7 linked regions of the Homo sapiens genome follow. The protein of the gene in region 1 interacts with the protein of each later gene in a biochemical or structural test. Each region holds a gene or a part of one and is shown in the gene's direction. Other genes may lie near its edges.

Region 1 (4,698 bases):
GCCTTGGATTAGTCCATAAATAAAATGAGCTGTATTAAGTTGTATTGGATTGTGTCATGCTGTCCTTTGGCTTCTTCCTAACGTGTTGATATCTTACCTGAACCTCTTGTCTAGCTAGACTTGTCATTTTTCCCCTTGTCATTATTGTGTGTATGCTGTTCAAACTCTACAGTTCACCTTACTGAAACTTATTCAGTGGGTCCTATTTTTTGTTTGGTTTGATTTGATTTGTTTTTATTTTTGAGACAGAGTCTGGCTCTGTGGCCTAGGCTGGAGTGCAGTTGCGCCATCTGGGCTCACTGCAACCTCCACCTCCCGGGCTCGAGCCATCCTCCCACCTCAGCATCCGGAGTAGCTGGGACTACAGGCACTTGCCACTATGCCTGGCTAATTTTTGTATTTTTTGTAGAGATGAAGTTTTGCCATGTTGCCCAGGCTGGTCTTGAACTCCTGAGCTCAAGCAATCCACCCAGAGTGCTGAGATTACAGGCGTGAACCACTGTGTCTGGCCGGGTCCTATATTTTCAAAGTGCCACTTCTTCATAGTTGTCTCCAAAGCCCTGAGCTCTTTTAAAGACTTCGCACAGACTGCAATTATATTGAAATCTATTAGATGCAGTGAAAATTGATGAACGGCAAATCTCCTCCCCTCCTTCATAGTAGCTTGGCATATGTGGTTCAGACTTTTTAAATTTAATTTTATTTATTTATTTATTTATTTTGTTGAGACAGAGTTTTGCTCTTGTTGCCCAGGCTAGAGTGCAGTGGCGCAATCTTGGTTCACCTCAACCTCTGCCTCCGGGTTCAAGCAATTCTCCTGTGTCAGCCTCACAAGTAGTTGGGATTACAGGCATGCACCACCACACCCGGCTAATTTTGTATTTTTAGTAGAGACGAGGTTTCTCCGTGTTGGTCAGGTTGGTCTCAAACTCCCGACCTCAGGTGATCCTCCCGCCTCGGCTTCCCAAAGTGCTGGGATTATAGGCGTGAGCCACTGCACCCGGCCGTGGTTCAGACTTTTAATGCAGTGGTGAACACTGTCAACAATTTTTCTCCAAACAACCCCTGGGAAGAAGATCGTTGTTGCATGCTTTATGCTAGGATTTACTTAAGTTCTCGAAGTGGAATTTCCAAATCAAAAGATGTGCGGTTTTTTCCAGATAGCCTTCTGAAAAGGTATGTGTATACACTGTCATCAGCAGTGGTTGAGAAGGTCATTCATTTCCCCTAACCCTTTCCAGCACAAGCAAGTTTTTAAGGCTAACAAAAATCTGGTGACCAGAAGGTTTAACGTCTTATCTCCTTGTTCAGTATTGGATGTATGAGGACCACCTCCCTTCTCACAAAGGACTGCTTAAGAAAACTAGTATTTTTAAGTCTCATGTAGTTTCATTTAGAACATGATACCATAGCATGGGATTAGTTCAGTCAAGGTGTTGCTTTGGCAGTTGGGAAATCTGGTTGGCTATGGTAATGTTCTCTATTTTTATCATTAAGACCAGTTTTTGTATTTAACACTAATCCTTTCCAAATGGCAACAGAAAACGTATCTGAATTCATACCACTGACTTTCTGGATATCAGGGAGGTGGTAGAGAGACATCATTTAAAAGATGTGAAGAGAAGCAAAGTTTATCCATTGCTACTTTAATTAAACTCTTAATCCATAGATAAGTCAGTGATAAATATGATAAATTACTAGATTTGAAACTATTGTTTGCATATTGAGTATTTAAAGACAAAATGATGATAATACCTAGGACTTCAGAGTAATTGGGGGAATACAGATGAAACAGGAGTGTCTATGAATTAATATAGTTGCAGCTGGCTTTAATTGGAATTCATTGTACTATTCTTTGTTCTCCTGTGTACCTTTAAAATTCCCTATTATAAGTTTTTCCTCCCCTAGAAATTCCACTCTTAGGTGTTTACGCAAGAGGGAATGATGCATGGGGCCAAGGCGCATAGGTACAAAAATGTTAATAACAGCTTTATTCTAAGAGCAGAAAACTAGAAATAATCCACTAGTAGGAAAATTGATAAACACTGATGTATTCATAAATGGAATACTATTCAGCATTAAAATGAATGGACCACTGATACTACAATATGATTGAATTTCAAAAACATGCTAGGTGAAAGAAACTTTGCATGAAAAAGTACATAGTGTATGTGATTCCATTTATATGAAATTTTAGAACAAACACAACCTGTTTATGGTAGGAAAAAAAATCAGGAATAATGGCCTCTGTGGGAGAATAGGCAGAGATTGGGAAGGGGCAGGCTTCTGGGATAATTGTATTTTTTTTTTTTTTTAATACTTTAAGTTCTGGGATACAAGTGCAGGACGTGCAGGTTTCTTTCATAGGTATACATGTGCCATGGTGGTTTGCTGCACCCATCAGCCCGTCATCTACATTAGGTATTTCTCCAATGCTATTCCTCCCCTAGCCCCCGACGCCCTGACAGTCCCCGCTGTGTGATGTTCCCCTCCTTGTGTCCATGTGTTCTCATTGTTCAACTCCCACTTGTAAGTGAAAACATGCGGTGCTTGGTTTTCTGTTCCTGTGTTAGTTTGCTGAGAATGATGGTTTCCAGCTTCATCTATGTCCTTGCAAAGGACATGAACTCATCCTTTTTATGGTTGCATAGTATTCCATGGTGTATATATGCCACATTTTCTTGATCCAGTTTATCGTTGATGGGCATTTGGGTTGGTTCCAAGTCTTTGCTATTGTGAATAGTGCTGCAATAAACGTATGTGTGCATGTGTCTTTATAGTAGAATGGATAATTGTATTCTTTAGTTGATATGGGTTTGGGTTTTATACATTTGTCAAAACTCAGCAAATGTACACCCAAGATTTGTGCATTTTGTATGTAAATTTTGCTTTGAAAAAAAACTAGTGATATGCCTGTACTTATGTCTTCAGCTTGTAACTGCTAGAAATGTATGGGTATCTGAAAAAGCAAGTATGGCAAAAGGTTAATGGTAAGATCCAGGTGGTGGATATGTGGGGGTGTTCACTGTAATTGTTGGTTGCCATGTATTGGGGGTTATGATATTTCACATCACTGGTTGAGTGTCTTTAATACATATAGCAAGAAGATAGTGTGTAGCCTGTGTCTTGTTATCCTCAAGATACGAGAATGTATAGAACGGTATTGATCCCCACTTAGGAGACATCACTGGCACCATCACTTTTTTGTTTGGGTGATGAGTGCTAAGTAGATTGATGGAGTTACCAGATGCTGTGTAAGACGTCTTAATTGGCCATACTCTGGGACAGTGGTTCACAAATTTGATCTCAGGACCCCTTTTTAGAAAATAAAATAACTTTAACAAAAAATTGAATGAGAATAGCGGCATTGCATTTCATTCAACCTATTGTAGTATTCCACCTCCTGTAGCTTCTGGAAAACTCCACTTGTGAGAAAATGACAGTGGAAAAAAAGCAAATATCTTAGACTTATGAAAGTGGTTTTACTTTGTCTCCTCTCCACCCCACAAAGGATATAGGGGAGACCTCTAGGGGTTCCCAGACTATACTTTGCCCTATGAGAATTTAATTACTGAAGTTAATAGTAGAACTGCTGTTCTACGAGAATTTTATTACTGTGTTTGGGTGATTGAGCAGTTTATTTTCTGAGTAGTCATCATATGTGGTGATAATGGAATTTGTAAAACCTTCCCCACCCTTCCCATTTCTCTGCCCCTGCACCCCATCTTATCCCTAGGAATATAGGTTTGAAGACCAGGAAAATCACAGATGTGATAATGAAGAAAGGAGAATAGTTGATATTAGACATTGGGTAATAAAAGTCCCTGTTAATTCCTGGAAACCAGCTAAAGATCTGGTATGTTGGAATGTCTTTCTGCTTTCTTGTGTTGAGAAGGATAATATGAAGTTAATAATCTCTTAACTTGCCCCTCCCAATACCTGACCAAAAAGCAGAGTTGACATCCATGAAAAATATGGATAATGGTCTTTCAGAGCTGGTTGCATTTAAGTTTTAAAAATACACAGCTTTTGGAGGCAGTAAGTCAGGTTAGCTGTTAACCAGCATTGGTCAAAGTATTTATCAGTGAAACTTGTCTTCATACCAACCTTTGATTGTCAGTTTACATGTTTTTCTATCCAGATGAGTAGTATTTCATGATCTCTTTGTCATCTGGATTTTTACTACAGTATCCAGTTGGGTTTGGCACAGTGTGGTACTAAATACATATTCTGTACGATACTCTTCATTTGAACATTCTGTCTCCTGTACCTTTGCTACAGGCTTTACTTAGAGAAATGGAAAAATAATGGTGCAAGTGGTGAGACCATGATGATAAGAACTTACATAAATTTAAATGCTTTCTTAAAGGATGGTCATAGATTGTGAACGTCATGTCGCGGTGATTGGAGGAAATAAATGGAGAAGTGTGTGAAAATGCTTTAAAGCCATAAGCTATATGGATCATCAGATTAGACATTTTATTCCTGAATAACTCTTACTGCTGTTGTTCTTCAATAATTAGTACTCCATTTTCCCTCTTGTTTTGTACATTCCACCAAACATTACTTGAATGCAGCTCACAGGATTTTTGCTCTTAAAAGCTACAGTTGTTAAACCTCTGCAGTTAAACATATTTATACTAGGTGTTCTGATCTTTCAGCCTGGTACTGTTTCCAGTCATTTGGGAATATACTTTT
Region 2 (4,698 bases), on another chromosome or scaffold:
TAAATAACAAGATTTCATAGGAGCTAGTAAATAGAGAAAGTTATTGCAGCAAGAAAAAATGTGTATTTTTTTTAATGGTATCCATTTGGTATTTTGTGACATTTCATAGACATTTTATGTTTTCACACATCCCATTCCACTGTAATCACTTAAATATCTATTTGTTGTGCTTTTCACTGCCATTTTTACTCTTGTATGTTCATTCTATGAGACAAATGAGAATTTTTCTTTTTTTCTGTAACTTGTGATGAGGGTTAGGTTATTTCTCTGAATGGAGGTTGAAGTGAAAGATTTTAGAGGGCGTATTGAGATTATTTATGTCATCTTTTCTAAGAAGACAGTTTTATTCCTGCCATGGGATAGGAAAGGTATCCTTTGATGTGGTAAACCATGGCTGGCATTCTCCTCGATGGCTGCTCTAAAGTTGAAAGAATTGGTGGACTCCTGGCCAGGCACAGTGGCTCACACCTATAATCCCAGCACTTTGGGAGGCTGAGGCGGGCGGATTGCTTGAGGTCAGGAGTTCAAGACCAGCCTGGCCAACATGGCGAAACCCTGTGTCTACTAAAAATATAAAAATTAGCTGGGCATGGTGGTGGGCACCTGTAATCCCAGCTACTCCAGAGGCTGAGGCGGGAGAGTTGCCTGAACCACTGCACACTAGCCTGTGCAACAGAGCCAGAGCCAGACTCCGTCTCCAAAAAAAAAAAAAAAAAAAAAAAAAAAAATGGTGGACTCCTAAGTTCTCTGCTCATAGGAAGGAGGTTTTTCATGGTCCTGACTTGCCCTAATACTCCTTACTCTTTCTTTTTCTTGGGTATTCCAGCTCGAGCAGCACCTAAAATAGCCAATGGTAAAGCAGCCAGTAGCAGCAGTAGCAGCAGCAGCAGCAGTAGCAGTGATGACTCAGAGGAGGAGAAGGCAGCAGCCACCCCCAAGAAGGTCTGGACCATAACTTCTGTCAGGGCAGAGGTGACCAGGGTGTGATGTGTGTGTGTCTTCCTTCCCTGGCAGGATTGGTTGGGTCAGCATTTTCCTGTGGTAATCAATTTTCTTTCTAATGCAGACTGTACCTAAAAAGCAAGTTGTGGCCAAGGCCCCAGTGAAAGCAGCTACCACCCCTACCCGGAAGAGTTCTAGCAGTGAGGATTCCTCCAGTGACGAGGAAGAGGAGCAAAAAAAACCCATGAAAAATAAACCAGGTGACTGGACATGGGGAGCGAAGCTGTGTGACTGTGGTCAGGGCCCAGCTGCAGTAACCACATGGACCTCTCCATAGAGGTGCATGAGCGTCCTCATGACATGACAGCTAGCTTCTCCGAGCACTAGTGATCCAGGAAAGCAAGGAGAAATCTCCAGTGCCTTGTGTAACCTAGACTCAGAGGTGACACCATGTTCTGTTAGAACTGAGTCATTGATTCTGGCCCATACTCAAGTGAAGGGGAATTAAGCTTCATTTCTACAAGAAAGTAGTATCAAAAAAAGTTGTAGACATATCCTAAAACCATCACACTATCCTTTTTAAACAGGTCCCTACAGTTCAGTCCCCCCGCCTTCTGCTCCCCCACCAAAGAAGTCTCTGGGAACCCAGCCTCCCAAGAAGGCTGTGGAGAAGCAGCAGCCTGTGGAAAGCAGTGAAGACAGCAGTGATGAGTCTGGTGAGTCAGAGGGATGCAGCCTCCCCTCAGCGTGGGTCTGGAGGAGGGGATGAGGAATAAGGGAGAGAGAAAGCCTTCCATCCTTCGGTTGCTTTTTGCTTAAAGCAAGACAGAGCTAAGGCTCTGTGCGTGTCTTTGCATTCTTTTTATTGCTGTCCTGGTTGGGTTGGGACTCTGGACCCAGCATAATGCTACAGGTTCTCCTCAGATTCAAGTTCTGAAGAAGAGAAGAAACCCCCAACTAAGGCAGTAGTCTCTAAAGCAACCACTAAACCACCTCCAGCAAAGAAAGCAGCAGAGAGCTCTTCAGACAGCTCAGGTAAGGCATATGGAGGCCCTCAGTTCAGTGAGATGCTCTCAGGCAGCTGCTAAGGGCTCCCCTGAATCCAATTTGGGGAGCTGTTGATTCCATCCCTTCTGTGTCTAGACTCTGACAGCTCTGAGGATGATGAAGCTCCTTCTAAGCCAGCTGGTACCACCAAGAATTCTTCAAATAAGCCAGCTGTCACCACCAAGTCACCTGCAGTGAAGCCAGCTGCAGCCCCCAAGCAACCTGTGGGCGGTGGCCAGAAGCTTCTGACGAGAAAGGCTGACAGCAGCTCCAGTGAGGAAGAGAGCAGCTCCAGTGAGGAGGAGAAGACAAAGAAGATGGTGGCCACCACTAAGCCCAAGGCGACTGCCAAAGCAGCTCTATCTCTGCCTGCCAAGCAGGCTCCTCAGGGTAGTAGGGACAGCAGCTCTGATTCAGACAGCTCCAGCAGTGAGGAGGAGGAAGAGAAGACATCTAAGTCTGCAGTTAAGAAGAAGCCACAGAAGGTAGCAGGAGGTGCAGCCCCTTCCAAGCCAGCCTCTGCAAAGAAAGGAAAGGCTGAGAGCAGCAACAGTTCTTCTTCTGATGACTCCAGTGAGGAAGAGGAAGAGAAGCTCAAGGGCAAGGGCTCTCCAAGACCACAAGCCCCCAAGGCCAATGGCACCTCTGCACTGACTGCCCAGAATGGAAAAGCAGCTAAGAACAGTGAGGAGGAGGAAGAAGAAAAGAAAAAGGCGGCAGTGGTAGTTTCCAAATCAGGTCTGTACCCAATGAACATGCCCTCTGGGTTTTGTCCCCCCAAATCAGGATGGGATATACTCTTTGAGAGTAGGGTAGTGAGAGGAGGCCCACCACTGGGCTTCCAGTTGTGGAAACTGGGAGGAAGAACAGGAAACTGGTTACCTTTTTTTTTTTTTATTAGAGTCTCACTGTGTCACCCAGACCAGGGTGCAATGGCATGATCACGGCTTGTGCAGCCTTAACCTCATGGACTCAGGTGATCTTTCCACCCCAGCCTCCTGAGTAGCCGGGACTACAAGCATGCACCACCATGTCTGGCTCATTTTTTTAACTTTTTATAGAGACAGAATCTCACTATATTGCCCAGGCTGATCTGAATTTCCTGGGCTCAAGCGATCCTCCTACCTTGGACTCCCAAAATGCTGGGGTTACAGTTGTGAGCCACTGTACTCGGCCTGAGTCTGGCTTTTTGTTTTGTAGGTTCATTAAAGAAGCGGAAGCAGAATGAGGCTGCCAAGGAGGCAGAGACTCCTCAGGCCAAGAAGATAAAGCTTCAGACCCCTAACACATTTCCAAAAAGGAAGAAAGTAAGTTGTCTCACTTTCTTCTCAGGAGCCAGCTCTTTAAAAGTAGAAAAATCTAGGATCATCTTGACAGCTCTGCCTGGCGTGACCTGGTACATGTGCCCATGTGTATCACTCAGGAGAACTGTTACATGACCACTCTGTCTTTAATTTCCTACTTCATTCTTCTGTAGGGAGAAAAAAGGGCATCATCCCCATTCCGAAGGGTCAGGGAGGAGGAAATTGAGGTGGATTCACGAGTTGCGGACAACTCCTTTGATGCCAAGGTGAGAGAGAGATCTGTGCCATTCTTGGGAGGGAGGATGGGTAGTGTCAGAGAGGACAATTCTTGGTTCAGGTTGGTGGGAATCTTCTCTGGGTTCAGGTTTCCTTGAGCAGGGAGTAGAAAGAATAAAGTGACAGGGCTCCAGCATGGTCCTCCTCTGTGTTAATCTCCCTCTCTACTTACCAGCGAGGTGCAGCCGGAGACTGGGGAGAGCGAGCCAATCAGGTTTTGAAGTTCACCAAAGGCAAGTCCTTTCGGCATGAGAAAACCAAGAAGAAGCGGGGCAGCTACCGGGGAGGCTCAATCTCTGTCCAGGTCAATTCTATTAAGTTTGACAGCGAGTGACCTGAGGCCATCTTCGGTGAAGCAAGGGTGATGATCGGAGACTACTTACTTTCTCCAGTGGACCTGGGAACCCTCAGGTCTCTAGGTGAGGGTCTTGATGAGGACAGAAGTTTAGAGTAGGTCCTAAGACTTTACAGTGTAACATCCTCTCTGGTCCTTTTCTGTGTTCCTAGTTTTGTACAGACTTGTTTTTGAGTGTTGAGTAGCAGGGACAAAATAAGGGAATGTTATTTTTTAAGAAAATTCATTTTCATTGTTGTCTCCTTCCTTTTCTGTGAAAGTCCTCATACTGAGAAATTTGTATATTTTATATTAAATCACTTACTATTGATTTTTGTTGTGATTTTCAAAGGTGGATTCCCACAGATAAAATCTTGGCTATTGCCCAAAACATAGTAAAGGGTCACGTGTGACTTTTTATAATAGGAAGAAAATTCTGCCTTTGTGAGTGCACATGTCCACATTTCATCCCTCCTTCCCTCAAAACCCTAGAGAGGGGCATTAAAGAATTGTTGATGTATATGCAATGTCTGTTAAGCATGCACTATGTATTTCATCCTCATTTATTGGGTCTGGGACTGAAGTTTTTAGCCAGCATGGACCTAACCTACTTTTTGGGATAAAATTCTCTGTTTTGTTACAGGCAAAATTCTGGTATGGCGTGAATGCCATGGGTCATTCTGAATATATTTTTTTCTGTAATTTTATCATTACACGATGTTTGCAATACGTGCTTTGTTTTTTAATTTGAAAGCAAACTTTTCTACTGTTGAAAGACATTTTTTGACAACTTGA
Region 3 (4,624 bases), on another chromosome or scaffold:
GGCGGTTTCCTCGTTCCCCTTTGGTTAATGCGCAACTGTTTCAGATTGCAGGAGGAGATGCTTCAGAGAGAGGAAGCCGAAAACACCCTGCAATCTTTCAGACAGGTTTGTAGACTCTCTTCCCACTCGCAGCCGCCTGACCCCACCCAACACAACCCACGAGCAATTCTAAAAGTTGCTTAACTCACGTCTAAAAAGTGCAAAACTTCAGGGCTGCGCGTAAAGCCCTCTAGTGGCGGGAAGACCACAGGTTGGAGCTTCTCATGATTAGAAAAATATTAATAAAACCCCTTGAGCGATTTTTTTTTTTTTTTTGAGACGGAGTCTTACTCTGTCGCCCAGGCTGGAGTGCAGTGGCGAGATCTTGGCTCACTGCATCCTCCGCCTCCCGGGTTCAAGCGATCCTTGAATGATTTCTAAGCAGTTCCTTGGGACATAAAGAAAAATCTTTTAACTTTTTACTTTGTTTCCCAAATGTTGCACAGTTTTGCAACACATTGACCTTCTGGTTTCGAACGGTTACAATTTTAGATTGTGGTTTGCCAAAGTCAAGTTGCTTAATTTTTACAAGGCCACAAAAAGCGCAATTATGCCCTGCAGTTTAAAATGGAAAACGTGTTGGAAGATAAGAAAACTTAGTTTCCAACTGGAATGGAGCCAGCAAGTTTCTTTTCTTCTTTGCAAATTCTATTGTGTCATTAAAGTTCGATGGAAGTATCACTATGCACAACTATTTTGTGATCTAATAAGGGTGAAAAGGAGCCATCTGTCCCCTTGGCTAAGGGGTATTAATGGTTTCTATGGGCTTCACTATGGAATGTAGATACAGACATTCTGGCAAATGTGGTGGCTCTGGACAGAAATAATAGGAGTCTTTGTATTCCCAGGGAAGCTTTGCAACAGGCTACATTCTTACTGAATATGTAATGATGTAAGCACGGTTCTAATTGGACACAAGTATTTGCTAACATCCGTTATCTAATATCTGGCCCAGACTTGAGAAGTAGGTAATGTAAAAAGTTTTTAAAGCTACAAGCATACCTCACATTTTAAAAGTCCTTTCTTGATTGGGTTCTTGTGTTCTTTAGCACTCTTGCCATAAAAAATAATAACAGTAATAAACCCAAGGCTGAAAAACTGAATTTTAACTAAAGGGTTTTTGTGCGTGTTTTTTTTTTTTTTCACCAAAATTAGATGGACTTACAGAATTTTTAACTTAAAATTGGAATCCAAAAGCCAGAAGATCCCCATTATAGTTTATAGTTGTATTCCCTGGAATATTTACTGGGATTAACTGCAAAGCACTCTCAGATGAATAGTGTAGTATAACATTTTGAAACTGAAATACATTTACCAAATTAATTTAACCACAGCAATGTGTGTGGTTCATTTTAGTCCTTGAGCATTTTTGATTATCATACCTGTCATGTTTTCTGCAGTGTAGTGAGTTAACATAAAACAACATCAATACAAAAGATCCTCTGTTTCGAGATTAAGCAAAATTCCTCATTCTCTTCAATGTGATAGAATACCACATTGATCTTTCTTTGGAGGTTAGTAAAATATCTTTTATGTATTTTTCAGGGCTTAACAAGTAAAAATCAATGTTTTCATCAAGTCTGATCTTTTTGTCACCCACTCTTCATTCATTTTTCCACTAAGGTGATAGAAAAGTCTCAACAGTTTAAGACCGTAAGGCTATGAACTCCAAATATAATTGCTGACAAGATAAGCAATCCTCACGCATCCTTTTGAGAGGAAATAAAATCTTAGTTGCAAGATTACATATTCTGATTTGGAATGCTGAGCTTTTTAAATGGAAATATAGAAGGACGGCTGAATCAGCAAAAATCCTTTATGTAGTTTCATTCTTTGCAAGCTTGACCAGTCATTCTGAAACAGGCTAACTGAACTGATACAGTGGCAAGTGAAAAAGACATGCCTTTACAGGATGAGTCAAAGGAGTTTTAGAAGAAAAATCCACCAGAGAAAGCCAAGCAAATACAGTTCAGAGTTACATTTCTTTTCCATTTTTTCCTGAACTGAATCTTTGGCATGCATATCCTGAATTGGGTTATTGAATATAAATCTAGCCTTGTACAATGGATGCCAGATGACTACATATTTGCTTTGGAGCCTAAGGATAAGTTTCAAAAGATTTGAGTGGAGAAGAAAAGCTAAAACTCTTGAAGCACAAGTTTCTGTTCTCCATGTACTCAAGTGTACATGAAGTTGTGAAAATTTGTCCACCTCTATCATCATGTTATTCCATGAAATTACAAAACAAATCTTAAAAATGTTGTGGCATAGATTTTCTAGATTTAAAAAGTAATTAAATTAAATGAATTACTTTATTTTTTGAGACAGAGTGTCACTCTGTTGCCCAGGCTGGAGTGCAGTGGCACTATGTTGGCTCACTGCAACCTCTGCCTCCTGGGTTGAAGAAATTCTCCTGCCTCAACCTCCCAAGTAGCTGGGACTACAGGCATGTGCCACCACACCCAGCTAATTTTTGTATTTTTGGTAGAGACGGGGTTTCGCCATGTTGGCTAGGCTGGTCTCGAACTCCTGACCTCAAGTGATCCACCCGTCTCAGCCTCCCAAAGTGCTGGGATTACAGGCATAAGCCACCATGACCAGCCTTAAAAAGTAATTTTAAAATATCACTGGTAAAATGTGGATTCAGTCATGATTGAGTGCAGTTTACCATGTGTGTGGACATTTATTTATTTTAAAATTGTCTGATCACCACCTTGAGTAAAACACAAGCAGTCACAATTAAAATATATTAGTGAGCAGGAGAAAGCACAGCATATTATAGCACTGAATGATTTATAAACCTATTCCAGGGTCATAAAATGTGTCAACGGCTTTTCTATAGTAAGGAGACTAGGTTCAGATGGTTAATCTAAGACAAATAAATGAGATAAGCCATACACTTTTACATCCTCCATGTCCTGTCTTTTCTCTGTTCAAAATAGGATGTTGACAATGCGTCTCTGGCACGTCTTGACCTTGAACGCAAAGTGGAATCTTTGCAAGAAGAGATTGCCTTTTTGAAGAAACTCCACGAAGAGGTTAGTGGAGTGACTTTCGGGGAATGAATGAGGGTAAGGCAGCCCCCACGGTTGGCAGAGCTGACCGTCTGTCTGTTCTTTTTGCAGGAAATCCAGGAGCTGCAGGCTCAGATTCAGGAACAGCATGTCCAAATCGATGTGGATGTTTCCAAGCCTGACCTCACGGCTGCCCTGCGTGACGTACGTCAGCAATATGAAAGTGTGGCTGCCAAGAACCTGCAGGAGGCAGAAGAATGGTACAAATCCAAGGTAGGAAACAAATCAGTGCGGCTTCAACCAAAGAAAAGCATTGTGTTCTCAAAACCCCATACCTGTGTGTGATTCCTAAATATCCTCTAGCTCCAATGCAAAGCTGGCTTTGACTTCTTGCTCATATTGTGTTTGCCACCACAGCCTCCCCACCACTCACATCACCTCCTTTATTTATTTATTTATTTTCTTATTTATTTATGAGACAGAGTCTTGCTCTACTGCCCAGGCTGGAGTGCAGTGGCAACATCTTGGCACACTGCAACCTCCGCCTCCCAGGTTCAAGTGATTCTCCTGCCTCAGCCCCCTAAGAGCTGGAACCACAGGCAAGCACCACCATGCCCGGCTAATTTTTGTATTTTTAGTAGAGATGGGGTTTCACCATGTTGACCAGGCTTCTCTCAAACTCCTGACCTCAGGTGATCCACCCTCCTCAGCCTCCCAAAATGTTGGGATTACAGGCATGCGCCACCACGCCTGGCCACATCACCTCCTTCAGAATAGCAGACTCTCTTCCCCCTAACCTTGCCTCCAAGTAAACCCCAATGCCATACCTTTGACCTCCACTGTGTTGAAATGAGCACTGTAGAGTGAACTCTGAAAATACTAATGTCAGTACTCCACTGCTCTTTCCCTGGCTTTCAAAACAGAAATTTAAACCTATACTGGAAGACATTCAGTGAGAAATATGATTTTTTTTTTCTAAGAGAGTCAAAAGACTTGAATGTGAGCAATCTACATTTCTGTTTTCTTCCCAACAGTTTGCTGACCTCTCTGAGGCTGCCAACCGGAACAATGACGCCCTGCGCCAGGCAAAGCAGGAGTCCACTGAGTACCGGAGACAGGTGCAGTCCCTCACCTGTGAAGTGGATGCCCTTAAAGGAACCGTGAGTACCAACCCTGCAGTAAAAGAGGGAAAATAATGACCCATTCTGCTGACTAGGCTCATGATGATACCTGAACAAAATGTTGAGTGAGTAAAAATGTATATCATAATGCAAAGAAAATGAGTTATCAAGACAGACTCAAAAGGGACTTCATGGAACTCTTGAAGGTTTTAGCTTGCCTATATCATTGCTTCTAATATGAAGGACTTGGTACTCGCATTCTCCACCTAAAATTAGAGTGGTCGCCATTTGCCGCTAATGGAAATTATTGCAGAAGGTCTGTAAATGGTTCTGGGAACAGCTGGGTTTTTCTGAGAAATAACACCAGACATCTTTCTCACCCCCTGCAGAATGAGTCCCTGGAACGCCAGATGCGTGAAATGGAAGAGAACTTTGCCGTTGAAGCTGCTA
Region 4 (3,500 bases), on another chromosome or scaffold:
CTCTTTCTACATCCTTCCTGATCTCTCTCCTCACATATATTATAGATAGCTGCATGCCTTATTTTAAATTACTGAGTTCTCCCAGAATTATTTTTGCATGTTGTTTTAAGTATCTGTGACTCCATTGCTAGATTTTATTTCTATGTATTACATCAACAAATCTTATGGAAAATCATGGAGGAAGAGATTGAGAAAAAAGGGGCTCACTAGTAAAATAGGACTTATTCTTCTTAGAGCCTACAGCAGCAAAAGAATGTACTGCATGTGCCTCCAGTATGCAAAGCAAGTTCCTCCTAATGGATCTTATCACAACTTCGTGACAAATTTCTAAAAATATTCCCTGCAGTTAGCAGTGGCAGCACTGGGTTTCTAAGGGAAAGACAAAGCAGGCGCGCTGTGTGGGTTTCAGTTAGGCGAATAATCTGGAGAGTAAAGCAAATTCTTGTGCCTTCTTTATAGGTTTTGAAAGTGACACAGATTCGGAATTTACATTTAAGATGCAGGATTATAATAAAGATGATATGTCGTATCGAAGGATTTCGGCTGTTGAGCCAAAGACTGCGTTACCCTTCAATCGTTTTTTACCCAACAAAAGTAGACAGCCATCCTATGTACCAGCACCTCTGAGAAAGAAAAAGCCAGACAAACATGAGGATAACAGAAGAAGTTGGGCAAGCCCGGTTTATACAGAAGCAGATGGAACATTTTCAAGGTACTGAGATGGGTGTGATTATTGAGTTTCGTATGCTTTTCGAATATGGTAGGATGTTAAATGTGGTAAAAAGAATGGCTCTTAAATGTGTTTCATAGATCATATATTAAGCTTGACTAGTGAGAATATTTTTCATCCCTCTATTTTTAGTTATACATATCTTGAAGCCATTTCTTCTGTTTTAGAATGTCAGCATATGATTTGCTAGGTCTTTTTTTAGATGCATGACTTCAGTTTATTGGTATTTTTCAGCTTACCAGATAATTTGTATTGTTCATGATGAGCCATGCCATGTAATGTTTTTCCTTTTTTGATTGATCTTAGTGGACATGAAAAGAATCCTTTAATTTCTCAGCAAATTAGCAGAACAGAGTGTGGTTTTGCAAATCCAGCTTCCTCTCATGGGGAGGCGTACGGTTTTGAAAGTGGTTCGGACTCTGAGGATGAACGAAGGTTTCCTGACATAGTTTTGGATGACTTAGCCAACCGTAGATTCCAAGTGAAAAAGAGGCCCCAGAATTTCATCTCGAAAATCACCTATCCTAATTCTTGTCCGCAAATATTTTCTCCTGCTGATATGTTTGCCATGGGGCTATATGGACTGACGAGGTCAGAAATACTTGTCCTGGATCTGGCTGTCTATTATGCTGCTGATTTTAATTCAGAAAGTAACACCCCAAATTGTTTGTTATGTGCCTCTTCCTTTTAACACAGCTTCTAATGAAGTATCTTTGGCCCGTGTGTATCTAGCTATCCTTGAGTTAAAATGAGATGCTGTTATAATAACTTTGTCCTAGGAGCTGTGGTGGTGATGAGAATGGAAACTAATTTGCTTTGTTCACAGTGGTGTAAACTTTGTGAACCAGAAAGCATGCCATTTGTGTTCTGTGTCACAAATGCTCATACAGTGTCTTAACCGGTTGGATGTTTTGAACAGTAATCAGAGGAGGATTTGGGGCACCAATGTGGAGAACTGGCCAACTGTACAAGGAACTTCAAAGTCCTCTTGTTATTTGGAAGAGGAAAAAGCAAAGACAAGAAGCATACCCAACATTGTAAAGGATGATCTTTATGTGCGCAAGCTCAGTCCAGTCATGCCAAACCCAGGGAATGCTTTTGATCAGTTTCTTCCCAAATGTTGGACCCCAGAAGATGTGAACTGGAAAAGAATAAAAAGGGAAACTTATAAGCCATGGTATAAAGAATTTCAGGGATTCAGGTTTGTCGTTGTGCATGTTTCTGTCACACCAGTGTTCATTCAGTACCCCAGCTGGGGTTCTATGTGCATGTTTTTTATAATAATAAGAGAGACAGAGAAAGTCTAATTAGTTCTCTAGTATCTGCGGAACCTATATAATGGAAATGAATTTCTGTTTAAATTTAAACCTGAGGATCTAGATCTTAAAAAGCCCTGTTCTATACATAGTCATAGCACGGCATTATTTTTAGTAGTTCTGTTTTTCTCCAATTCTTTGTCTCATTCCCTCTTCCCTTCTTTTCTTCATGTCACTCACAGTAGAAGGAATTCAGACTCTGAGGATGAGGACTCAGGTTCTGACAGAAGCGCCACCGTTTTTAGTAGAGCACAAAAAGCAGAGCATAGGCTAGACGGCAACTGCCAAAGACCTTCACTCTTGCTGGAATTAGCTACCAAACGGGCTGTAAAATCACCGGACTCCCATGCAGCCAGGAGAAGCAGTAGTGCTTCGGATGAGCCCAGGTGCCCCTGTCTGCATGAGCCTGCCTGCTGCGGGTCTGGCCTCAGACAACCCTCTGCCTGCTTCTGCTGCTCCATTAGCCTGGGACCTGATTGCACTGAATCAGGAAACCTGACTCACTTAGTGGACTTAGTACAAAAGCGTAATGTATAACACGCTGCTTTCTGTGCAACTACATCAGCTTGGAAGTCTGTAGGATTCAACATTCTTCTTTAGCACAATAATGTGTGAGACAGGATATATTTACATGTGGCAGTTCTTTTGAAAAGCCGGTTCAAAAAGGCTTGTTAGAAAGTTTACCTAATTTCACGGTTTTGTTGTGTGTGGAGATGTGGAAAAAGGAAATAACTTTCAGGTGGAGACTGGGAAGGGCAAGTCTAGGGAAAATGCAAAGGGAAGATTCCTTGAGCTCTTTTATAAAACTTCAGAGCAATTTATTTTCCCTTTTTCCTGCTGATTACATATACCTATTGCATAAAGTGCATGATGCACAACTTGTGAAACTTTCAAAGATTATTCCTTCTTCTTCAGGGGACACTTAGGCCACTGTGGCAAATGGAATGAGAAAGGGATACCAGGGGCCAGGCGGGGTGGCTCACGCCTGTAATCCCAGCACTTTGGGAGGCCAGGGCAGGTGGATCACTTGAGGTCAGGAGTTTGAGACCAGCTTGGCTAAAATGGTGAAACCTTATCTCTACTAAATATACAAAAATTAGCCAGGCATGATAGGGGGCCCCTGTAATCCCAGCTACTCGGAAGGCTGAGGGAGATGAATTGCTTGAACCCAGGAGGCGGAGGTTGCAGTGAGCAGAGATGGCGCCACTGCACTCAGCCTGGGCGACAGAGTGAGACTCTGTCTCAGAACAAACAAACAAACAAACAAACAAAAAACAGGGTACCAGGGAGTGGCTTTTGTGTGTGCCTGGGAGGGGTACCTAGTCCATGCTCCAGCCCCATCCGTGGCCTCCATGGTGCCCAACTTTCCTGAGAAGTATGCTCTGCTCTTATTTCTTTAGGGATTATCCAGGAAAGTCATGGGTGTTGGATTAAATGCTAGTCTGTTTTCCTAG
Region 5 (4,132 bases), on another chromosome or scaffold:
AAATTATTCAACAAGAAGCTCGATAAAATGAGAGAGATACCAAGGTATTTAAGACAAGTAGAATTTCTAAAAGGGGGAAAGAATGGATTCTCAAATTATTCAACAAGAAGCTCAGTATTTATCCTTGACAAAATTCTAGAATGAATGAATGATTAAATAGATGATTTGCAAATATTTAGAAAACAAATCTTGGCCCTGAGAAGAAAATGACTGAAAGTCAGTATTTGTCAATGTTAATTTACTTAAAATGTATTATTCCAGAATAACTGCACTTTTTTTTAAGTAGGATTACCAGATTGGTAGAATGAGTCTTACCAAGAACTGATGTGTCTCAATGATAAAGCATTTGAAAAAAAAAATAGCCTAAAATAGCCTTTGGAGAAGATGGTAAATATGAGCTACATAGGAATACTTCTAGGAGGAAGCACTGCCTGCTTTTAAGACTTGCTCAAAGAATAATTAATAGGCCTGGCAGTTGGTAATGTGTTTTGTGATAGAGTCAGAAAGCCCTATGTTTAGGCCTTATCCTGAAAAAAGTTCTAATAATTGTATTAATACATAGCAGATGGGCTTATTCGGTGTGAGCATGACAGAAAGCTAGGAGAATTAACGATATGAGGCAGAGCTATGGTCACAGAGATGTACATACACATACACACACATCCTTGCGTTCAAGCACATAAAAGTGTGGTGGAAACATAACTAAGAATGTAATTATCATGACTGTAAAAATAAAATGTTAATTTTTGAGATAATTATCCACTTACAATGATAAGTTAATGGCATAATATGGCTGCAGTCTGCCATAGTGTTTAAGAGCACAGGCTTTGAATTCCAGTCCCCCTGGGTTTCAAATTCAGCTGTATTGCCTAGGAGCTGTCTGACTTTGACCAACTTACATGGCCTTTTGAAGCGTCACGTTTTCCTTTTATTAAAATGGAGATTAAAATAATAACTACTTTCAGGGGGTTGTTATAAGGACTAAATAAGAATATGAATGTAATTTTTTAAAAAAGAATGAAAACCCCTCAATCCTAGACTATATGAATAATATATTTGCGTATAATTCAAATTGGCAGTTAGTGAGGAAAATGTTGGTCAGTGATGATCACTGAATTTTAACAGGGACATTGAGTAGAGCTAGTGACTATTAAAATCGAGGTGTACAGGAGGACTAAGCAGGCTGAAAGATCTGAAGGAACTATAGAGGTGAGATTAAGGGGAATGAATCACTGTCTCCAAAGATGTAAAGAACTGTCATATAGAATAAAGTTTTCCATTGCATCTAAAACATAAATAGGACTAATGACAGTAAGTTATAAAAAGAAAACACTTTTTTTTTTTTGCTTTGAGTAGGATATGAATTAAAGGTCAAAGATTCAGAATGGTGTATTGTGTCATGATGTCATCTGTGGTCTGGGGAGGGGCATGCATGTGCCTTTGCAACTAGATTGTGAGCTTTTCGGGGTCAGGGCTTGATCATTAACTTTTTATTTCATAAGTAATTGCCAACAGGAATTAAGGAAGATTTGGTGAATGAACAGATAAATGAATGATTTATACATACATAATACATCTGAGACTATTTTATTACATGAATATTGTATCAATGTAGACATGGCCAGTAAAGAGAATATTGGAAGGAAAAAAGCCTCTAAACTGTGTTCAAAAATGTTTAGTAAAACGCATTTTGGATGGTATAGTTAATGCTGGATTGTATACAACTTGATTAATAAAAAGGATATTTTAAGAGTTCCAGAAAAGTAACAAGCAGAACAGAATTCTCAACTACAAATGACGGACCTATTTTCTCACTAATACCGTGGTCCCAACATTTAGCTATAGGTGCTAACATTTAATAGTTCATTATTTCTGTTGTGTGCTTCCAAAAGCCACAAAATGTATGTATACACACACACACACATTTATTTATACATACACGTTTCTCCTCTAATTCTCTCCTTATATCCTTAACCATTTTCTCTTGGAAGTAGTTGCCATTGCCTTGTTGTGCTTACTCAGGTCACTTGGGTTGGGTACTGTGGCGTAGTCAGACTAATGATTGTATGCTTCATTCAGCAGAACAATTTTTTCATTTTTACTTATTCCATTCCCTTCAGACACTTCTAGTTTCCCCTCTGATAGTACTTCCCTCCCCATTATGCAGTGTGGTTCACTGTTGGGGCCCATTTGGGCACAAACGAGACCTTTTGTTGAGTTACTGTACTCCTGCCTTTCTAATTACAGAATTCCAAACAGAATGAGTGAATTAATGACATGAATTTATTTCCTGCAGTGTCTAGGGCAGTGTAATGCTGCAGCAAGCTTGCAATAGCACATAAGCTCTCCCTTCACTCCTTGTCCTCCATTTTTGCCGGGTGACTTCACAGCAGCAAGAATGGAAGGTGCACTTTACTCACCAGTGAGTAAATCATGTGAATGGATATTTTAAAGCACATGCCCTATACGCAGTTCACAGAACTATACTTTTAAAAGCTCTCTGAGAACACATGCTTGGAATATGAAAATGTACTGAGTACTGTATTTCTTCAGGTATCCTAGGTAAGGCAAGAGTGTATAGGCATAGGCAACATTTAAATGTGTGTTGTTGCATTTCATTTCTCCAAATAATTGTTTGATATTTGACTCTACAGCCCTTCAGGGCAGGCAAATACTTGTAACATTAGCTCCATAGAGATATGGTTCTCAATTACCAAAAGACTGTAGAAGTCACTTTTCTTTGCCTGACACTGGGAAGGATTCTGATTGAAGGAAGCAGTCTTTGTTCCTCTGGTCTCATGTGACAGTCTGTATCTTCAGGTCCATACAGGTTGATGCACACCAAAAAGTGGATTCAAAGCTGCCTATTCAAGACTTGGTGATAGGGAAAGATGAGGAGTTAATTTTCATTTTCGTTTATCAGCTGCCTGTTTGATTAAGATTTTTGGTAGGAAGAGCCATCTTTCAGACATAATGCCTAGGGTAGGTTAAGGGCAAAAATTAACTCTTTGAAATATAAATGCTTCCTATTAGGTTGGCAGATTTCACTAAGCTCTTTTTGGGAAGAAAATGCTAAAATTCAAAAAGAGAAACATGGAAGTTATTACAAGAATGAGAAGTGTGAGGGAATGACTTTAATAAATAATGAACTATTAATGACGTATACTGAAAATATAATGTCCAGAAAAGGAGAGTGAGAACTCCATCACATGATACTGTGGGTAACTAGGATGATTTTCAGACTAGATAACGATGAGTATTACTTTTTCTTCATAAATTACACTCACAGACTCCCCAGTCACAAGCAGAGTACTAGGCCAGAGGGATTGTGGTTCTAACCCCTCAGAGAACATTTCTTGTTAAATAGACTTCTTTCCTGTCTTCCTCTAGAAAGTCTATGAAGGCTGATATAATTCCAATACATTGGTTATTTTTGAAAGCAAAAGCAAAGTGAAAGCAATTAAAGTGTTTTCTTCTTGGGCTGTTGGTTTTCAGGCTCCAAGTTTATCATGAGATATGACCCATGTTATGATGCATTTTTTCCATACAAATATGATGTTCAGATATCTGTCATTTAATTCAATACTGTGTGAACCATTGTGTGTATTCAAACGTTCAGCATGTTTTATAACAAAATTAGTAAATGCTTTATCTTGAATATTAGTTTTATCCTGCCCATATTGTAAGACATATTTAAATGATGTACATATAAACAAAATTTCTAAATTAAAGAAAGTGTTAAAGAGTAGACCAATTGAAATTCATATCATACAATAGACTCTAATACTTCTTCCATAATTACTTCCAACTTCTTCTTTTTTTTTTTTTTTTTTTTTTTTTTTTAGTATCCAAAATAAAATGAAGGCCAAAGTTTCAGTATTCTTAAGAGGATTTTTTTTTTTGGTTCTAGTGCCTTGTCACTATGCTGCATTTAACTGTGTGAAATAGCAGATGTGAAATAAACTATAAATGAATTATGCATATGTTACAGATTTGTCATCTATTTTTACTGGTAATTTTTTTCAGCCATTGATCTTATCAACAATTTGCTGCAAGTAAAAATGAGAAAGCGCTACAGTGTGGATAAGACCTTGAGCCACCCTTGGCTACAGGTAAACAATAATCACTGAGT
Region 6 (4,698 bases), on another chromosome or scaffold:
CTCCGACATTAGGCCAAGAAACAAGTCCCATTTGGTGGGGCCATCATATTATTTTGCTGCTGAAGGATTTGGGTGTCTTCTACAGTGTTTAATCTTGGGGTGTATCGGCGTGAAGCAGTCAAGTCCTATAAGTCCTACGACTTCTTTCGGCATGACAATGAGGAGGCCATGAAGATCCGCAAGTGAGTCTTGTTTAAGGCCTGATCTCCAGGTCAGCTCTTTCTTGGCCGTCATGAGACTTGGTGTGACAGGGCTTGGTTTCATCTCAGTAAATATCTTAAGGGGAAGTTAAATGGAAGTTATCTGATGGGCAAGTGACCTTGGGCTTGGGTGGTCAGAAGAACAGGGCTCAGGGTGATTGATACCTGTGTGCTTGTAGGAGAAGTCTAAAGAGGGCTAAGATCTGTGCATTGGGGCAGGGGCAGGAAGGGGTTATAGGATGGTGTGAAAACCCTCAGTGAGAAAGTTGAAAGATCTAGTTAGAGAAAGGTTTTGAACAGTGGGAAACTAAGTGGGCAGGGATGTGACTTCTGTAGCCACCCGAATGTTTGTGTCTCTGACTGTTTGAGCTTAGCTCTCCTTGCTGGTTTCATTTGCTCTTATGGCAGACAGTGTGCTCTGGTGGCGCTGGAAGATGTTAAGGCGTATCTCACTGAGGAGAATGGTCAGATTGCGGTAAGCTTTATCTGCTGCTTCTTCTTTCTGGTCCCCACCCTTGCAGCAGCCTGGCTACCCAGCCCCACCTTGAGTCTGCCCTGGTGGGGTTCTGTTTCTCTGTTCCTGCTCATTTACCTTGTGTACTTTCTTCACAGGTGTTTGATGCCACCAATACAACCCGGGAGAGGAGGGACATGATTTTGAACTTTGCTGAACAGAATTCCTTCAAGGTAGGATCTGACTCCATGTTGGAGGAAAAGGGATGAGTAGAGGTGGGGAGTCAGGCTACAGGCATGGATCTCTCACTCTAGTGGGTGAGGACAGGATGGGATATCTGAATCTCTTCTCTCAGAGCATTCCCCCAGTCCTTGAGTGTTTTCATTCAGGTCCTTTCTCAGACTGTTAGCCTGTATGTTTGAGGCCCAGGGGCTGTGGTAAGAGCTATGAGGAGGACTTGAGGGCCACTTTCATGAAGAAAATCCTGGGAGATGTGGTGGCTGGGTGGGGTAGATGAGCATGTGCTCTTAATTAACAGCCTGGCATTTTTGACTTGCTTATCACTGCCTTCTCTCCATGGCCAGGTATTCTTTGTGGAATCCGTCTGTGATGATCCTGATGTCATTGCTGCCAATATTCTGGTTGGTGACACCCCTACATATCATCTCCTCTTCACCTTTTGTGCTGTGTGTGTTGTGGGGTGTGTGTGTGTGTGTGTGTGTGTGTGTTGTTGGGGAGGGGTGTTTTCGTAATGAAAGAGAGAAATAGACATGTTTAACATCACAAAGAGATCTTTTCTATCTGCCAGAGCCCCATCTGGTACTTCTACACTCTTCTCTTGGGAGAGGAAACTGAGGCTTTAAGGAATCAAGTAAGAATTAGCTGTTGAATTGAAACCAGGGTTTAGGTTGTAGGATTCTTGGCCCTGTGCTCTAGGTATTATCTGGATGTTGAGACCTAGATGTTGGAATAGATCAGCCGGGCACGGTGGCTCATGCTTGTAGGCTCAGCACTTTGGGAGGCCGAGGCAAGTGGATTGCTTGAACCCAGAAGGATCACCTTAGCCTGGGAGGTTGAGGCCACAGTGAGCCGTGATTGTGCCACTGCAGTCCAGTCTTGGTGACAGAGTGAGAACATGTCCAGGGAGGTTGAGGCTGCAGTGAGCCATGATTGTGCCACTGCAGTCCAGTCTTGGTAACAGAGTGAGAACATGTCTCAAAAAAGAAAAAAAAAAAAGAATAGATCAGACTCTTCGTTTCAGGACTTACCTACAGGAAGGTTATCTCCCCAGCAATTGTCCAAAGTTCTCGTCAGTGTTCTATACATTGAGCTCCTTATTCCCTGTGGGGTCACAATGTAAGCCAGTCCCCATTGGATGGGTTGTGCTCTGCTGGACCGAGTAGATATCTGAACATGGTCTTATGCAGGTGCTCTCCCAGCCGTAGGAACTTGGGATCATCTGAGGAAGAGCCATCTGGTCCCAAGTCAGGCACTGGGGTCATGCACCCTATTCTGAGTGGTAATAGGGAAACATTGGAGCCTGTTCTGTTTTCTCAGGAAAGTACATAAAGGGATTGGGGCCCAGGAGCAGCTTTGGCTGCGTGACTGCCTCTGTCCTTCAGCCAAGTGCAGGCACATGACTCCCCAGTTGTCTTAACTTTTTTGGTTGCCAGGGTCACAGGACGGGGCGGGGCGGGGCGGGGGGTACTCAATGAGTGGAGTGCCAATGTTCCAGTGAAAGGCGACATTTATGGACTTCTTTTTCTTTTTTTTAGCAGTGGCTATTTGTAGGAGGACTGTTACGGGCAGACCTCTGATGAGGCCTTTACTGGTTCCTATGATTTCAGGAGGTTAAGGTATCAAGCCCTGACTATCCTGAAAGGAACAGAGAGAACGTGATGGAGGACTTCCTGAAGAGAATTGAATGCTACAAAGTTACCTACCGACCTCTTGACCCAGACAACTATGACAAGTAAGGTTTAAGGCCATGGTTTGAAGGGCCCAAGGCAAAGGTCTCATCTGGGAAAATAACCTTTCTCCCTGAGTTCTCTAACTTCCTTCTGATAATCTAGATCTACAGTGTTAACATCATCCCAGAGAAATAAGGTATGGATTTGTGGCTTTTATGTGGATTGCATCTTGTACATGAAAAATTGAAGTGGTTGGTTTTGTTTTGTTTTGAGACAGGGTCTCACTCTGTCACCCAGGCTGGAGTGCAGTGGCAAAATCAGGGCCCACTGCAACTGCTGCCCCCGGGGCTCAGGTGATCCTCCCACCTCAGCCTCCTGAGTAGCTGGGACCACAGGTGTGCGCCACCATGCCCGGCTATTTTTTTTTTTTTTTAGTAAAGATAGAGTTTCCCCATGTTGGCCAGGCTGGTCTTGAACTCCTGAGCTCAAGTAATCCACCCGCCTCGGCCTCCCAAAGTGCTGGGATTACAGGTATGAGTCACTGCGCCTGGCTGGAAGTGTTTTTTATCATCAATTTTTTCTCTCCAGTCTCTAGAGCATGATTTCCTCAATCTCAGTATTATTGGCACTTTGAACTGGGTAATTCTTTGTTGTAGGACCTGTCCTGTGCATTGTAGGATGTTCAGCAGCTTCCCTGGGCTTTGCCCACTAGATGCCAGTAACACCTCCAACCTGTGACAACCAAAATGTCTCCAGACATGTCAGAGGTTCCCCGGGGGGCACAGTTATCCCTGGTTGAGAATCACTGCTCCATATCTGAATGGGGGTGTTGTAGGATACCCTTTGGAGATGTGTCATCAGTTTTTAAAGTTTATATATATTATATGATATTTTACATATATTAATGCTTGTGTGTATATCATGCATATTATAGCATAACATATATATTACATATTGCATATTTTTATATCTATCTCTCTCTATATATAACATGCAAAGCCCTCAAGAACATGCCTGACTCAGAGAAATGTCTGATCAATGCCAGCTGTTGTTACTATGGAAGCATTTGTTGGCAGTATGGTGTAGACTATAGATTAACTTGTCATGTGTGAGGTATATGAGCCATAACAAAACCAAGTCTATGTTGAAGAAAGATGGTGTACACATGGAAATCTGCAAGAATGTGGCCTCATGAAAGAGCATGCATTCAGGGCAGTTAACAGCTCTATTCACATAATACAGACCTGCAGCCAAGCAAATGGCACATTTAATGTGCATGGCACACTTAATACAGTGGTCTGTTTAATGTTTTGAGCCTTTCAGTTCCTTCAAGTGGGTTTCCCAGAATCCCCTTAATTCAGAGGCTGAAAACCACCTCTAGATATGGCATAAAAGTATTCTTCAGTTGGAACAAAGTCCCACCTAGAAAAACATACAGAAGATCTACATATATATACATGTGTATGTTTGTATATGTTATCTCTGGTAGTAGGGTGATGCGTGATTTGCATCCTTCCATCATTTTTTCTGATTTTTTGATTTAAAATAAGCACTTATGACTTTTTTTTTGAGATGGAGTCTCTCGCTCTTGTTGCCCAGGCTGGAGTGCAGTGGCACGATCTCGGCTCACTGCAACCTCCCCCTTCCTGGGTTCAAGCAATTCTCCTGCCTCAGCCTCCTGAGTAGCTGGGATTACAGGCACCCGCCACCACGCCCGGCTAATTTTTTTATTTTTAGTAGAGATGGGGATTCACCATGTTGGCCAGGCTGTTCTCAAACTCCTGATCTCCTGATCTACCCACCTTGGCCTCCCAAAGTGCTAGGATTACAGGCATGAGCTACCGCATCCAGCCACACTTATGACTTTTATAAAGAGAACAATCTCATGTTGGCCTCAAAGCAAGCAATGTCTGAAAGTGTCTTTGAGAGAAGCATGATTAGGTAGATGCAGGGAGTATATAGACATTTCTGTCTGTGCTTCTGCTGCCTCTTCCCTTCCCCTCGTTGCTCGTCGTGCCATATTCTGGCCAGGTCTTAACTGCCTCAAAAGGGGCCTATTCTTCTCACCAAATTTTGGGCTTAGCAAAATCTTCAGGTCACCTAGTCTAGCCCCTGATGGGAAGGCTGAATTCTG
Region 7 (4,698 bases), on another chromosome or scaffold:
ACAATGAGTTTAGAAGCAACTACTGAAAGGCGTTCCCTTAATATACCTGCCACCATTACTCTGTATTTATTATATGCTCAGTAATTTAATTGTAGCTATTTATCTATTTTTTTTTTAGCTAATCTGGTTTTAAGGGAATTGAAAGTAAAATTAAATGCTCTTTTTGCTTCTAGAAAGTAAACTTTTTCATATTGAAGGAACTTTGTAGAGCAGCTTTGAATTTTTTGTATTCCGCATTCTGAGAGTTTGAATACTCTTAGAGAACTTAGTTTTTAAAAACCCATGCAGTTTTCCATAACTAAATTCATAATTTTTTTTCATAAATGATTATGGTAGTTTTTTGGTTGTTTGTTTTGAGACAGGGTCTTGCTCTGTCACCCTGGCTGAAGTCTAGTGGTGCAATCTCAGCTCACTACAACCTTCGCCTTCTGGGTTCAAGCGATTCTGGTGCCTCAGCCTCCCAAATAGCTGCAATTACAGGGGTGCCCACCACGCCCAGCTAATTTTTGTATTTTTAGTAGAGATGGGGTTTCACCATGTTGTTCAGGCTGGTCTCGAACTCCTGGCCTCAAGCAATCTGCCTGCCTTGGCCTCCCAAAATGCTGGGATTACAGGTGTGAGCCATCACACCTGGCTTTGATTATGGTAGTTTTATGTTTGGAGTATTTCATTAAATTTAATAAATATGAGTGTTTCAAGTATTACTCTTCACTGTCATTAAATGGTGAGTTTATTCTGGAAATTCCTATACTTTTGCTCGTTTAATACTTTGCCATTTGAAGAGTAAATTACTTTTTGCATTTCCTTCCTTAAAAAGGAAATGTGTGGGTTACCTGTGTTTGAATAACAAATTATATGCTATTTACATATGCTTTCATAAAGTCTCTTCTTGGGCATAGTTTATGTTGTTATTTCCCTTATAATAATTGTTACTCTCTCTCTCTTTTTTCTTTCTCTTTCCTTCCCCCAGCCACTATTTCCTTTTCACTCTTTTTCCTTCTCCTTCTCTTTGTTTGCTAACCTGCATGTAATGCTCTTTATTCCCAATCCCAAAATGAATGGCAGTGAAGAGAAATACTTCAGGATGCTAAGGCGGGTGGATCAGATGAGGTCAGGAGTTCAAAACCAGCCTGACCAACATGGTGAAACCCTGTCTCTACTCAAAATAGAAAAGTTAGCTGGGCATTGTGGCGGACACCTGTAATCCCAGCTATTTGGGAAGTTTAGGCAGGAGAATTGCTTGAACCCGGGAGGCGGAGGTTGCAGTGAGCCAAGATCATGCCACTGCATGACAGAGCGAGACTTCATCTCAAAAAAAAAAAAAAAAAAAAGCAAAAGGAATGTCAAGGACTATAAAAAATTTACCTTTGGCTGGGTGCGGTTGCTGACACCTGTAATCCCAGCACTTTGGAAGGCCCAGCAGGCAGATTGCTTGAGCTCAGGAGTTCAAGACCAGTCTGGGCAATATGGCAAAAACCTGCCTCTATAAAAAATTTCAAAATTAGCCAGGTGTGGCGGTGTGCACCTCTAGTCCCAGCCAGTTGGGAGGCTGAGATGGTAGGATCAGTTGTGCCCGGGAGGTTGAGGCTTCAGCGAGTCATGATCAAGCCATTTCATTCTAGCCTGGTTGACAGAACAAGACCCTGTCTCAAAAAGAGGAAGAAAAAAACAACAACTACTTTTATCAGGGAATACTCTGAGTGCTTTAAATTTTGCTTCCAACCTCTACAATGCAAGCCAGGCAAATTTTACCCACAAGGCAACAAGAAATTCTGATTATTCCATGAGATAGTATATTCAATTCTGTCTCTATTTCTTCCTTTTTTTTTTTTTTTTTGGTTGCATAGTAAATATGACTTCTTGTGAAGGAGGGTCATATAACTTTGAGTATTTATACTATAAGTTGTTCTCTGTCCCTCTGAAAATTCTACCCTTTTCCCACGATCAGTGAAAATCAGAAGTCTAGGAACTAGTGATATAGACAGATATTTTCACTAATGATAGAAAATGGCTTATATAATAATACCATATCACATTTAATTAATTTTGTTTAGGAGAGATTGTTTCATTTCATTCCAACCAGTATTGAAATTCTAATTGTGAACTAGAAGGCCATGTACACAAACACCATAGTTCGGAATCCTCTCAGGAGTGGGAGAGTAGGATACTGAGGAAACTATAACTGGTAATTTGCCTTGATATGGTATGTTACAGGATAAGCACGTTTGCAGCCCTGTCCTTTGCCTTCCTATAACCCACTTTTAATATCAAGAAGAGAGGTCAGAAAGCTACCTCCATCTTGTTAATTAATTACCAAAATTGGTATGAAAATAATTTGTTGGACTTACTTCACCAAGTTGAGATGCTAGAGTAAAACTTGTAATTAAATGAAGGAATGTCAACATTGTTCCAGTTATAACCTTTCACCATTATACTGAACTGAAATAGTATATGAGTCCTGCCTAATTAAATTTCTGACATTGTTTCTGTAACCTTATTCAGTAAAATTGATTTTTTCTTTTGTGACATTTTTCTTTAATATTTTAATCAGATATACCAAGTTATATATAACAGCAATCTCAGCCTAAAAAATAAATTCTTCCTTGTTTTGGCAAAATAAATTTGTAATTTTCCAGATATTTTTTAAAGTTGCTTCTTCAGATCATAATTTAGAGGCTTCGAGGTAATAGCGACTCTCTCACACTAGTGACTCAAGAGATAAAGTTGTAAACTCTAGCCTTTATTTCTGGATTATCAATAGATTCCATATTAAATTAGCAAAGGAATGGCAAATGTTTTATATCACTTACAGCAAGCTTGTCCAACCCATGGCCCATGGGCCATATATGGCCCAGGATGGCTTTGAATGCAGCCCAACACAAATTCGTAAACTTTCTTAAAACATTATGAGATTTTTTTGCGATTTTTTTTTTTAAAGGTCATGGCTGTTGTTAGTGTTAGTGTATTTTATGTGTGGCTTAAGACAGTTCTTCCATTGTAGCCCAGGGAAGCTAAAAGATTGGACACCCCTGACGTAAACAGCAATTAATAATATCCAAGGACAATGAAGTCTGTCTTACTCCAGAATGATCCATGTAACTTACAACCTAAAAAGGGAGTACAGAACAGCACTGTAATTTTATTCCAAGGAAATTGTCTCTAAGTCGATTTGTCAGTAAATCTCAATGAGATTATGGACCAATAACTTTACAGTTTTTGATAAAAAATGGTATAGCAAATGAAAGTTGGAATCAGGTTAAAAGGTGACAAAAGCTCATAGCCGTTAGAAGTAAAATTGTGTATCTCAATGTCATTGGCCTATTATGGATTAATTTAATTGCAGCTGAGAAATAATTTTGTCATCATGATTCATGGACAGAAGGAAAACATCTTAAGTTTAGATTCACCCAGAATACTTCACCAGGTGTATTCAAACATAAAAGTAAGCACAGTCTCTGGTTGTGGAATTCTTGTTTAGTTCAACTATGTAAGGATTTGCTTACTTAGGGCCACATGCACTCAACGAATTCATAAAGTTAATAGTGGTGAAGCCTCAAGAAGCTACGAATTAACCATTTCAGGCATCCCTTTGAATGGAGTCATGGTGAGAATAGGGTCTGAGAGATCCATTAAAGCTTTTTCTTAACCCTTTGTTTTATTTTCCCTATGAAGGACTAGCCCGAGCCAAGTCAGTTCCCACAAAGACCTACTCAAATGAAGTTGTCACACTATGGTACCGGCCACCTGATGTGCTTCTTGGTTCCTCGGAGTACTCAACACAGATTGACATGTGGTAAATATATACAGATGTCACTGACATTTATAATTTTGAAAGAATGTAACTGTTAATGCAAGATGTATTGATAAGTATATACTTTTAAGGAGATATTATTTTAAAGAGCCATAATGTAACAGTGATTAATGAGTTCTGGCATGGGAATTAGATTACCTAGGTTTAAATACCAATTCTGCCATTTAGAACTATGTGTTAACTTTATTCAAATTACTGGCCTTTGCCTCAGTTTCCTCATTTAAGGAAATGGGAATAGTAACAATAACTACTTTGAAGTGTTGTAGGTGATGTTAAGATTAAATGAACACTCAGAAGAGTGCTTTATGAGACACTCAAGAGTATCTGATACATAGTAATTTAAAACAAAATTATCATTTTATCATCATTTAATATTCACCAAAATCTTTCTGCTTTAACTTGAACTAAAAGTAATAATCAAAATATTGTAGTCATCTTTCTCACACACCGCTTCGATCCTGACACTCTTCTACTCAGACACCGTTATTGCCACCCCCTTCATTACCTATAGAATAAGGTACAATTAATTCCTCAATCTGATACTTAAGGATTTCCATAAGATGTCTCTAAACTACCTTTTCCAACTTATTTCAGACTGTTTCTCAACACAAATGTTCCCTTTTAGCAAAATGGCATACTCACTATATCTCAGGAATAATGTGGACTTTCCTACCTTTGCTCTTGGTGTTCATACCAGTCCACCCATCTGGAATGCCCACTCCGGTGCTCTAACTTGGGCTCATTCCTAGTAACGTTCAAAATACAGCTTTTCATAAATCCTTTCCTGAATATACTCTAGCCTCTGTTGGCAGTTCCTTCCTCTGAACTGTGGTTGCATTTATTTTCTATGTTCTTCATGTGGTAATAAGTCATATACCGATTTCTGT

What was found.
Region 2: the proteins of YWHAQ (region 1) and NOLC1 form a complex in vitro, tested with the Homo sapiens proteins (one large-scale study listed by BioGRID).
Region 3: the proteins of YWHAQ (region 1) and VIM form a complex in vitro, tested with the Homo sapiens proteins (one large-scale study listed by BioGRID).
Region 4: the proteins of YWHAQ (region 1) and LMO7 form a complex in vitro, tested with the Homo sapiens proteins (one large-scale study listed by BioGRID).
Region 5: the proteins of YWHAQ (region 1) and PRKD1 form a complex in vitro, tested with the Homo sapiens proteins (2 studies listed by BioGRID).
Region 6: the proteins of YWHAQ (region 1) and PFKFB2 form a complex in vitro, tested with the Homo sapiens proteins (one study listed by BioGRID).
Region 7: the proteins of YWHAQ (region 1) and CDK17 form a complex in vitro, tested with the Homo sapiens proteins (one study listed by BioGRID).

What each region holds. Positions count from the first base shown.
Region 1 is NC_000002.12:9,619,800-9,624,497, reverse strand, and holds part of YWHAQ (14-3-3 protein theta), read left to right. Parts: intron 1-4,698. UniProt on the Homo sapiens protein: Adapter protein implicated in the regulation of a large spectrum of both general and specialized signaling pathways. Binds to a large number of partners, usually by recognition of a phosphoserine or phosphothreonine motif.
Region 2 is NC_000010.11:102,158,367-102,163,064, forward strand, and holds part of NOLC1 (nucleolar and coiled-body phosphoprotein 1), read left to right. Parts: intron 1-826; coding exon 827-942; coding exon of another isoform or gene 943-972; intron 973-1,066; coding exon 1,067-1,202; intron 1,203-1,529; coding exon 1,530-1,658; intron 1,659-1,866; coding exon 1,867-1,977; intron 1,978-2,085; coding exon 2,086-2,727; intron 2,728-3,189; coding exon 3,190-3,296; intron 3,297-3,466; coding exon 3,467-3,559; intron 3,560-3,744; coding exon 3,745-3,903; 3' UTR 3,904-4,698. UniProt on the Homo sapiens protein: Nucleolar protein that acts as a regulator of RNA polymerase I by connecting RNA polymerase I with enzymes responsible for ribosomal processing and modification.
Region 3 is NC_000010.11:17,230,606-17,235,229, forward strand, and holds part of VIM (vimentin), read left to right. Parts: intron 1-44; coding exon 45-105; intron 106-2,981; coding exon 2,982-3,077; intron 3,078-3,164; coding exon 3,165-3,326; intron 3,327-4,087; coding exon 4,088-4,213; intron 4,214-4,563; coding exon 4,564-4,624. UniProt on the Homo sapiens protein: Vimentins are class-III intermediate filaments found in various non-epithelial cells, especially mesenchymal cells. Vimentin is attached to the nucleus, endoplasmic reticulum, and mitochondria, either laterally or terminally.
Region 4 is NC_000013.11:75,803,830-75,807,329, forward strand, and holds part of LMO7 (LIM domain only protein 7), read left to right. Parts: intron 1-459; coding exon 460-712; intron 713-1,649; coding exon 1,650-1,931; intron 1,932-2,228; coding exon of another isoform or gene 2,229-2,432; intron 2,433-3,500.
Region 5 is NC_000014.9:29,578,255-29,582,386, reverse strand, and holds part of PRKD1 (serine/threonine-protein kinase D1), read left to right. Parts: intron 1-2,296; exon of another isoform or gene 2,297-2,422; intron 2,423-4,026; coding exon 4,027-4,112; intron 4,113-4,132.
Region 6 is NC_000001.11:207,062,535-207,067,232, forward strand, and holds part of PFKFB2 (6-phosphofructo-2-kinase/fructose-2,6-bisphosphatase 2), read left to right. Parts: intron 1-85; coding exon 86-182; intron 183-608; coding exon 609-675; intron 676-812; coding exon 813-887; intron 888-1,238; coding exon 1,239-1,295; intron 1,296-2,501; coding exon 2,502-2,626; intron 2,627-2,642; exon of another isoform or gene 2,643-2,760; intron 2,761-4,698. UniProt on the Homo sapiens protein: Synthesis and degradation of fructose 2,6-bisphosphate.
Region 7 is NC_000012.12:96,288,262-96,292,959, reverse strand, and holds part of CDK17 (cyclin-dependent kinase 17), read left to right. Parts: intron 1-3,672; coding exon 3,673-3,793; intron 3,794-4,698. UniProt on the Homo sapiens protein: May play a role in terminally differentiated neurons. Has a Ser/Thr-phosphorylating activity for histone H1.